Regions from separate parts of the Homo sapiens genome. Here regions 2, 3 and 4 are each linked to region 1. Evidence: fine-mapped expression QTL. A gene starts in region 1. Each other region holds a variant in brackets. All regions are shown on one strand. Distances are between the middles of the regions.

The links.
Region 2: its variant is fine-mapped to the expression of ATOSA in blood mononuclear cells (TOPMed, PIP above 0.99).
Region 3: its variant is fine-mapped to the expression of ATOSA in whole blood (TOPMed, PIP above 0.99).
Region 4: its variant is fine-mapped to the expression of ATOSA in anterior cingulate cortex (GTEx, PIP 0.99).

Annotation. Positions count from the first base shown.
Region 1 is chr15:52,678,335-52,681,023 of GRCh38, reverse strand. It overlaps ATOSA (atos homolog A), which reads left to right and starts at 1,636. Exons shown (of 13, transcript NM_001385016.1): 1 at 1,636-2,196. LOC105370821 (a long non-coding RNA gene) reads right to left here and starts at 1,419. Exons shown (of 4, transcript XR_932255.4): 1 at 1,331-1,419. RefSeq lists a silencer at 1,701-2,020 and an enhancer at 2,601-2,689.
Region 2 is chr15:52,655,095-52,657,783 of GRCh38, reverse strand. All of the region lies in intron 2 of ATOSA (atos homolog A), which reads left to right. Among named protein-coding and RNA genes, the nearest start is that of ATOSA, 23 kb to the left of the region's middle. The variant A/G (reference allele first, on the strand shown) is at 1,624.
Region 3 is chr15:52,728,854-52,731,542 of GRCh38, reverse strand. No RefSeq gene overlaps it. Among named protein-coding and RNA genes, the nearest start is that of ATOSA, 51 kb to the right of the region's middle. The variant G/A (reference allele first, on the strand shown) is at 1,152.
Region 4 is chr15:52,841,335-52,844,023 of GRCh38, reverse strand. The region is part of intron 1 of LOC107983981 (a long non-coding RNA gene); the gene reads right to left. Among named protein-coding and RNA genes, the nearest start is that of ONECUT1, 52 kb to the right of the region's middle. The variant G/A (reference allele first, on the strand shown) is at 1,517.

The DNA.
Region 1 (2,689 bases):
GAGGAAGAAAGAAGCTAAACCAGATTTTGCTGCCTGTTCACCCAGTAAGCCTTTTACAATAGCTGTTATTTGGTCCCAGCTGTTGTGCTAAATTTAGGTTTTTGGCTTATCTGTAACTGTTCTGTCTCCCATTACCAAGTGCTTGTAGAACAAGTAAAACTTCAGTTCATTTTTTAAAAACTACATAATACAGTATTCAATAATATCAAAGTCAAATCCACTGGGATTTAACATTTGTAGCATTTTATAGATTAAAGAACTGTTTCCATTTGTCAGTTTCATCGTCATGATGCCAGAACATTTCAGAGAAAATGAAATGTTACCCTCCTGAATGTTCTCTCCGCTCTGATTAGATACAATCGTGGAGTTAAGGTTAACAATTTCAGTTGTACATGTTATTTTACTGTACATATCTAAGCACTAGAAAATGTTACTTTTTAAATATTTCATGCCTTTTTCATAAGAACTTTACCTGAGGCCAAAAAAATGGAACTGCCAATCTTGCAGTTTATAAAACTCTTCTGATGTGAAAATAATAGACTCATTGTAAAAAAAATTTTAAAACAGAAGGGCACAAATAAAAAAAATCCCCTTAGACTTGTCCTAATACTTTCCTGTGATCCTTTTATGCAAAATTATATCTAAAAAAAAAACTTTTTCTAATGAAACCAAAGAGCCTTGCAAATTTTTACTTGTCTCCATTTGGGCTCATGCCCCATATGTACTTTGTCTATAGACTGAGTAGCTAATAGCTGCAGCGCTTGTTAGGATTGGGTTTTTTTTTAAGTACAGCAGATTCCTGTCATCTGTTTGTGTTTAAATGACGACAACATCACAACATGAAATGCCATCATGTCACATTGCTATAGCACAACAACAAAATTACAGCTCCCCAACAATAACATGCTGTCAAAGTGTCCTCCTGCCCATGAGTCAGTGTTTTAGAAGTTATGAAGATTATTTTTAGCACAGCGAGTGTCTTGGAAGCTTGGGTTCTGAATCCTACTAAAATCCTTAGTGATTTGGGAAAATCTAGGGTGGGGGTGGGCTTCCTGTTCTTAAATTCTCCCACTCCCTGACCCGCATAGCTGCCCACCCCCCGTCCCGGTCACATTAAACCCGGGTTCCATTATGCGCTGCAATCCACTTGGGGCTCGATCACAACTCTGTGCCAGCATCCCGGGAGGAGGAGGAGGAGGAGGAGGAGGGGGGGAAGGAGGGGGAGGGGGGAGGAGGAGGAGGAGGAGGAGGAGGAGGAGGAGGAGGAGACGACGACTATAATTATCCTCCACGTCTGGGGCAGGCCTTTGGATGACATCTCCCCAGTTACCCTGCGCTCTAATAGCGCAGCTCCGATTCCTGGTCTCAGAATCCAGGCGCGCCTCTGCCGGCTGGGAGCGCAACCGAAGTGCCTGGGACGTCTCGGGCTTCCGGGACTCTGCTGGTGTCTCCCAGCCGCCATCTCCAGCGCCCTCGCACCCGCCGGGCACCTGCACCGAAAACCCGGCCCCAAACTAGCGCCCCGGGGCGAGCGGCGGCATTGCCATAGTAACCGGGCGCCAGGGCCGCGGAGGCCGCCGGGGAGGAAGTGACGACCGGGGTGGGTTGGCTGTTGTTGGGACACGTGACCTAGGCAGTGTTTTGACAGGGCAAACAGCAGAGAAAGAACTGGCCGAGCGAGGGGGACGGGGAGCCGGGGCGCCAGAGCTAGAGACAGCGGGCGGGCAAGGAGCTGGCAGAGGCGCTGGGCAAGAGGGCCGGCCGGGGCTACGGGCGGGGGAAGCCCGGGGGTCGCGGGGCTCGGGTGCCAGTCAGGCAGGGCGGAGGGGCTGAGCGCAGGGAGCGGAGCGAGGCGGTGGCTGAGGCGCGGGTGGATGGCCACAGGGGCGCCGGGGAGCCGCTTCGGGCTGGTCGTCTCGGGTCCCCACGGTCACCTGAGGCAGCCGCGGGGGCCGCTGCGCTCCATACTCCGCTCCCGCTGGCCCTGCGCCTCTCGGAGCCTGGGGTCTGAGGTGGGAGTGTGATGTGAGCTGCTGGGCGAGCGGTGGAGAGAAGTGCCAAGAGGAGGCGGGATTGGGACGGGAGAGGAGAGCGAGTTAGTCAGCAGAGGTCGGCCGAGGGAGCGGAGGAGCCGGCCAGCTCGAGAGCGCCATGAAAACAACTCTCCAGCGGGGAGAGGGGCAGACGCGGCGCTCGGTGCGGCGGGGCTGAAGGAAATCCGGGGCCGCGGCGGGACGGAAGGGGTTGTGCAGAGCAGGGGGCGAGCACAGGCTGTAAACACCTCCCCCGGAGCCGGCCGCGGAGGACTGGTTGGGAGTTGGTAGGGTCGCCCCGGGACAGCCCGGAAGAGTTCGTTTGGGGCTGGGGGCTGGGCGGGAGGAGGTGACTCGGGTTTCTGTGTAAACTTGGCCGCGGTTGCCGCAGGAAGGCTAGCCAGAGGGTAATTACACAGGTGAGGCCCGGCGGGGCGGGCGGAGGGCTCGGGAGGCGCAGGGGACTGGAAGAGTTGGCTGCGCCCAGGCACCAGGTGGAAGAATTTCCATACCAGCCCTGCGGAGGTGCCTCTGTTTCCAGAGGCGTTTTTGTACGAAGGGGTTAGTTTGTGTTGCTCAAATCTTTTTCTTCTTCTTGCCTGTACCTCCAGGTTATAAATAGATCCTGTTTTGGTTCAGAGACTGTGTCAGAAGGA
Region 2 (2,689 bases), 23 kb after region 1:
AACTAAAAGTGTTCAAGATTTGATTTTGTTACCTTCTCTGTGTAAGCTAAAGTTGCTGACTTTTCTGAGTTTCCATTTTATTGATTAAAACTGGGATAGTAATAGTATTTTACACCATTTTATAACTTTATTAGAATGACATAATCTGAGTGAAGTGGTTGTGCCAGGCACTTACTAAACACACAGTCAATGAGTATGTTCTCTCCGAAGTTTGTTAGCTTAGGGAATTGGGAGGATGCCACTGATAATAATGGTGACTCTTATTCAGAGGAAAACTAATTCAGTTTTAGACATGCTAGAGTTTGAGGTAGCCAAAAGAGTTTAGTCATATCACTTGGAAGCAAACCAATGTGAAATAGTTTCAAATAAGCAAATTTTAAAAAATGTTAAATGCAAAGCAAACAGTATTAAAGCTTTGGGGACTTAATGATTGAGTCTCCTTACACCTACACAAGATTGGCTAAATACACATACAACTGTGTCACTCTACCAGATTTCTGTTAACATTCTCCAGAATTTAAACTGCAGAATCAGTCATTTGTATGACTGTTTGTCTCTATTAGCAGAGGTAATGACATGTATCAGTGATAGGTAATTGTGGAAAAAAAAACAGCACTTGGAATTAAACCTAGAGTTGGTGATTCTTACAGGGTAACCCAACGGCTACCTTAATTTCTATGATTCAGTTTCTTCATCTACAAAATATTATTTCACAAAGTTGCAGTTGTCAAAGGGACAAGTAAATATGGGATCCATTGTCTTCATGGAAAAACTTTTCATAAAATGTTATTTTATTATAATAAAAAATGTGTGATTGGTTTTCAATTTCAGATTGAATCAAACATAGCATTCTTTGTAATAGCAGGAGATTAACAACATCCCAGAATATATCTTTAAAAGAAGTATGGATAAAGAAAAACCCGTATGCACCTCTGCACACATTTTATGTAATAGTGGTGATACTAATTTACAAAGACAAAGTATATAGGATATTAAAAGTGAATTCTTAATACCTGATCTTGATTCTTATTAAATCTGACTTATGTGTATACAAGATATTATTAGATGAAGTGTTTGTCCAGTAGCTTAGCTTATAAATAACCCCCATTCTAGCTCATTTTAAACAATGTAGTATGAATGATGCCAAAAACAGGCTAGAACATTTTCTTCTTTCCAAGATCTTAGATTTGGTAAACAAGCTACTGCTCCTGGAACTAATCTAGGTCATCATAACCCAAAATCTTTTGAAATATGAGAGTCCCAATTAAGTCTCTTAGGTACTTTTTAGCATTTTAATTTTAAGAATGTGTTTAACTCTTAAAACAGTATATTTTGGTTGCTGTTTGGCCATTTGGTTTATTTGTACCTTGTTATAATGAATGCAAGTCAGTGGGTAATCATTGCAGCAAATATGATTGCTAGGAATCTCATGTAAGTGGAAGTCAATATAATGTATGGCTTAATTTATCCCTGAACTGACCTAACATCACATTTTGTTTTTTAATAAAAACTGGTTTAATGATATGATAAATTTCTGTATTTTCCACAACTGTTAATAATGTTATATTTTAACTATTGCTTAGTCTTCATTACAAATTATTCAGCTGTTAAATGTGTTGTTCA[A/G]TGTGACATTATTTAAAAACTTAAAAAAAAATCAGCTTCACAGAAATCTTTCTTTGATCAAGAGTTGTCTCATTCCCATTGTTATTAATACAGTATACAACTAATGTATGCTAATGTATTGCTGTTATTTGTGTGTGTGTGTGTGTATGTATGCAGACATATGGTCACATCATGTAGACCTGATGTCTGCAAAGGGAAAGAGGAAACTTCAAATTAAGAGCGGAGTACTGACCTAGGTGGTTTGTAGCACTTAGAGAAATGATTATTCCCACTTTTCAAATAAAGAAATAGATTCAGACAGGTTAAATAATTTGGTAACACATCCTATAAGTGGAAAGAGCTTGAATTTGTGGCTTTCCTCCTTTATGTCTTGCTGCTTTAAGGGGTCTTTCCAATCATGAGGTTGAATTTTGTACAAGCGTGTTTACACTACCATATCTGAACATTATCCCCTATCCCTCAAAGACTATTAGGAATAGAAATATCCTATATGTGTAGCACATTGCTACTTTGAAAATAATTTTATCCTGTCCTATTTTATCCTTACAACATACCAACATTGCAGACAAAGAATGAGGAATTTCAAAGAAGTGCTTAAGATCAAAAAGCTGATCAGAGCTAGGATTTGGGCCAGAACCCACATCGATGGTCCCTAGTTCAGTGTCCTTTTCGACCTCCTTTCACTTTCTCTGGATTAGGTGATCTGTGATCATGAAGTAGTGAAGTTTTACAGATTGAACCTTTTATCGTTGTCTTTGTGATCACACTACAGCTACAAAACAGCTATCTGTTTGCAGTCAAATCCTATTTTTCCATGTTACAAGCAGTGTATTAATGGTAATTTTGAGGTATAATGAGGCTGTCGTTGTGGTTATTGAATGACTAATACATGGGAAATGCTTATATGAGATTTCTGTATTTAAACTTTATTTTTGTGTAATGCCATATTTGCCTTACGGCAAATAGTAAGTAACATATGTAAGAAATTGTTAGGGAAAGGATACTAGTGGTTAAGGGCACATATATTAGATTTAGGAAGACATTATGTTTGAATCCTGGCTTTACC
Region 3 (2,689 bases), 51 kb before region 1:
GCTGGGACCATAGGCACATGCCACCATGCTGAGCTAATTTTTTTTTTTTTGTAGAGTCAGGGGCCTTGTTTTTTGCCCTGGTCTTGAACTCCTAGCTTCAAGTGATCCTCCTGCCTCAGCCTCCCCAACTGCTGGGATTACAGGCATGAGTCACTGTGCCCAGCTATATACCCTTTTGTACTATTTGAATTTTGTTTTACCGTGTGCACATATGACTTTTTCAATAAGCACAGGTTGTTTTGTTTAATGCATTGATGTATAATGTTACCATTCTTGGGAGGATTACATTTGAACATGACTTCAGCTAAAGGAATCTGTCACTGATAGAATTTCAGGTGGCTGGCCAAGTAGGGTGGCTCACATCTGTAATCCCAGGACTTTGGAAGGACTAGGCGGGAAGATCACTTGAAAGCAGGAGTTCGAGACCACCCTGGGCAATATAGCAAGAGTCTGTCTTTTTTTTTTTTTTTTAAAGGAAAAAAGGAAAAGAATTTCAGGTGGCTGACTCTCTAGCTATTAAGGTAGAGGAGGTAGTTTTTGCTAGAAGAAAGCCCTTCCCAACTCTTCTGAAGTTATGATGACAGCTCAAGACGGAGCCGACCATGTTTCTGGGAGAAATTCTATGGTGGGCTATACTTGTATTTAGGCAGGTCTCCAGCAAGAGAATGTCCTAGTCAAGAAAGTGCGGCTATGGCCTTCACTGTCCCTCGACAAGGTGAAACCTGCTCTCTCCCCCAGCCAGAGGAGAGAGAGGTATTTTTAACCTTGGTGTTGGCTAACGCAGGGTTTCAGGTATTCTCCGGGGTGTACTATGAGACAAGAAAGCCACGATATAACACTTAGACTCATTTGCCCTATCTCAATGTGCTGGTTTTATGCACCTTGGAGAATTGGACCATAAAAGCTGTAATAAGTGAAAACTATTTATTATGCTTCTCCAGTAACCCTTTGGCTATTGTCTTTCTTTTGCTTCTGAAGCAGAAGTGCAGTGCAGCAGTGGGTCGCTAACCTTACCCTCACATCCTTTGGCAAGGGGATAGAAAAATTACCTCCATAGCATTTGCCTTAAGTAGACCAGGAAGAGAAACCAGATTTGGGTCTATTACAAAAGAACTAGAATTACAGGAAGGTTATTTAGGTTCTCTTCAGAA[G/A]GTGGCATGCGTTAGTCATTAGATCTAATGGCACGTGCGTGAGACAAACCAAGTCAACAGGAAATGGATCATGCCATCTGTGAGAAGAGGACAAAAGTTGAAGCATGTGTGCTATGCAGAGTCTTTGCAGATTTGGGGAGGGTGGATTTTTCTCTCACCAAAAGAAGGAGTGGAGAGATGTTGATTTCCAGAATTGATTAACAGAAGAGGATGCAGACACTTCACTTAAATAAATATATCCCCACAAGCTACCAGCTGAGCAACTGCTGGGCTAGAAAGTAACTTGAGTTTAGACCCATTTGGAGATAACTGTCCCTTCCATAAAGAGAAAAGAAGGCTAAATTTAAGCAGGTGGTGAGTTTGGTTAAAAAAGAAAGGCAACAGCTTCGGAAACCACCAGCATTCTGATTACAAGGCTATGTGATCCTTTCAGAAACTGGAGCCTATTCAAGAATCTAAATCAAATTCAGTTTAGGTTTTTGGGGTTCAAACTGGTCTAAGAACAATCCTGACCTCCTAGCAGTCTCTCAGTCAATGAAGAATGGGCTTCTCTTGTATCATGGATATAGAATACACCTAGTTGCAAGGCAGGGACAGGGTAATATACAGTTTATAGCTGTCCAGACTCCAAATGCTTGTTGGAACCCCTCAAGAAGCCCTTTGGGGCTGGAAGGGAGGAGGGCTACTTCCAGATTTCTGAGTCACCTCAAAAAAGGTAGCCTTGGAAGCCAACTCCTCTCTGCTGCGGTCTCTGCATTTTACATCTCCATTCTCCTCTTTCTACCCCTTCAGCTTCCTAACTATTCATCGTCCCTCTTCTTCCTGACTGGGATTCATGTATTAGCTTTTTAAAAATGAAACCCCAAGAATCACTTGAACCCGGGAGGCAGAGGTTGCAGTGAGCTGAGATCACGCCACTGCACTCCAGCCTGGCAACAGAGTGAGACTCCACCTCAAAAAAAAAAAAAAGAGAGAAGAGAGAGAGAAAAGAAAGAAATCCTAATATAATAAAATTATTATGACCATGTGGCTATATGACCATTAAATATTTGTTTTGCACTTCATTCCTTTTTATTTCTTCAGCAAAATGAAATGACCCAATTAATTGCAGAACCCTGAAATCTCACTAATTTTTAAAATCAGAATTCATTTACAGACTCTGATCCCTTATTGTAAGTGACTTTATGTAGTTACGGTCTAAAACCTATTACCAAACAGACTTAACTAAACAATCTTGGTTCTTCTGGCCTGCTTTTTAATTGGAAGAGGAATCTGGAAACCATTACAAAATAGACTGCAAATGAGTCACAACAGGTGACTGTATTTTCCTTTCCGGTTTGAGGCAGTGCAAGATAAATTTAGTTTCTATTATTTTTTTTGTTTCTCAGGAAGATCAGAACTTGCTAAATAAATTAGGATTACTGATCTGATCCCTTCAATTTTCATTTCCTTTCAGGGGTGTTTCTGATCAATAATGAAAGGTCTTTTCATTACTCCAGGGCTCCCTGGAATCAGGCCTGAGATGTGATCTTTTTGTT
Region 4 (2,689 bases), 160 kb before region 1:
AAATGCATTGATGAATATAAAATGGCTAACACAGGATCTCTAACACATAGCAAATACACAACAAATGTTAGCTATTACCATTATTTTTGTTGTCTATTTTTACACTATAATGTTGAGTTTTTTTAATTATACTTTAAGTTCTAGGGTACATGTGCACAACTTGCGGGTTTGTTACATATGTATACATGTGCCATGTGGGTGTGCTGCACCCATTAACTCGTCATTCACATTAGGTATATCTCCTAATGCTTTCCCTCCCCCCTCCCCCCACCCCATGACAGGCCCCGGTGAGTGATGTTCCCCTTCCTGTGTCCAGGTGTTCTCATTGTTCAATTCCCACCTGTGAGTGAGAACATGCGGTGCTTGGTTTTTTTGTCCTTGTGATAGTTTGCTGAGAATGATGGTTTCCAGTTTCACCCATGTCACTGCAAAGGACATGAACTCATCATTTTTTATGGCTGCATAGTATTCCATGGTATATATGTGCCACATTTTCTTAATCCAGTCTATCATTGATGGACATTTGGGTTGGTTCCAAGTCTTTGCTATTGTGAATAGTGCTGCAATAAACATACGTGTGCATGTGTCTTCATAGCAGCATGATTTCTAATCCTTTGGGTATATACCCAGTAATGCGATGGCTGGGTCAATTAGTATTTCTAGTTTTAGATCCTTGAGGAATTACCACAGTGTCTTCCACAATGGTTGAACTAGTTTACAGTCCCACCAACAGTGTAAAAGTGTTCCTATTTCTCCACATCCTCTCCAGCACCTGTTGTTTCCTGACTTTTTAATGATTGCCATTCTAACTGGTGTAAGATGGTATCTCATTGTGGTTTTGATTTGCATTTCTCTGATGGCCAGTGATGATGAGCATTTTTTCATGTGTCTGTTGGCTGCACAAATGTCTTCTTTTGAGAAGTGTCTGTTCATATCCTTTGCCCACTTTTTGATGGGGTTGTTTGTTTTTTTCTTGTAAATTTGTTTGAGTCCTTTGTAGATTCTGGATATTAGCCTTTGTCAGATGAGTAGATTGCAAAAATTTTCTCCCATTCTGTAGGCTGCCTGTTCATGCTGATGGTAGTTTCTTTTGCTGTGCAGAAGCTCTTTCATTTAATTATATCCCATTTGTCAATTTTGGCTTTTGTTGCCATTGCTTTTGGTGTTTTAGACATAAAGTCCTTGCCTATGCCTATGTCCTGAATGGTATTGCCTAGGTTTTCTTCTAGGGTTTTTATAGTTTTAGGTCTAACATTTAAGTTTTTAATCCATCTTGCCAGGCGCAGTGCCTCACACCTGTAATCCCAGCACTTTGGGAGGCTGAGACGGGCGGATCACGAGGTCAGGAGATCGAGACCATCCTGGCTAACACGGTGAAACCCCGTCTCTACTAAAAATCCAAAAAAAAGAAATTAGCCGGGTGTAGTGGCGGGCGCCTATAGTCCCAGCTACTAGGGAGGCTGAGGCAGGAGAATGGCGTGAACCCAGGAGGTGGAGCTTGCAGCAAGCCGAGATC[G/A]CGCCACTGCACTCCAGCCTGGGCGACTGAGCGAGACTCCGTCTCAAAATAAAATAAAATAAAATAAAAAGTTTTTAATCCATCTTGAATTAATTTTTGTATAAGGTGTAAGGAAGGGATCCAGTTTCAGTTTTCTACATATGGCTCACCAGTTTTCCCAGCACCATTTGTTAAATAGGGAATCCTTTCCCCATTTCTTGTTTTTGTCAGGTTTTTCAAAGACCAGATGGTTGTAGAGCTGTGGTATTATTTCTGAGGGTTGTGTTCTGTTCCATTGGTCTATATCTCTGTTTTGGTACCAGTACCATGCTGTTTTGGTTACTGTAGCCTTGTAGTATAGTTTGAAGTCAGGTAGCATGATGCCTCCAGCTTTGTTCTTTTGGCTTAGGATTGACTTGGCAAAGTGGGCTCTTTTTTGGTTCCATATGAACTTTAAAGTAGTTTTTTCCAATTGTGTGAAGAAAGTCATTGGTAGCTTGATGGGGATGGCAATGTTGAGATTTTAACTAAAATTCAGAACTAATCATGTATATTCAGCTCTGATGTTGCAAACTGTTTAGAAAGTTTGCAACATCATTGGAAGCTTTTGACCAGAATAACATTCTAAACTCCTCGGTTTACACTTACAAAACTCCAGAACATGAGTTTGACCTCTCCCTCCTATCTTACCCACCCCTTCACCTGTCTGTCACTCTAGACTTCCTGCTGCTCTCCAGATTCACTGGCTCCATCACACATATGGGTACCTCTTCCCACCATTACACACTTGGAGAACTCCTAGATATCCTTCAAGACCCACACGAAATTTCACATCCTCTGTGAACCATTTCCCCTAACCTTAACTCAAAGTCAGTTACTCTCAGTTATACAACTTAAAGCACTTTGCATTTAAATTTACAATAGCACAGATTACTTTGAATTTTAACTATTTATCTGTGGTTTATTTGCCCTTTTTCACATAGTAGGTAAAATATGTTCGAATCAAATAAAATGGTATTGGAAGGAAGGAAGGGAGTGAGAAAGAAAGGGAGATAAAAGAAGGGAGAGTCAGAGGGAAAAGAGAGAGAGAGAAAAAAAAGGAAAACAGGGAAAGAGGAAGGAAAAGGGAGAAAATCCAACAAGTCAGACCTATGAAAAGTTTAAAAACAGCAGAGGAGGCAAAGGAAACCAGGA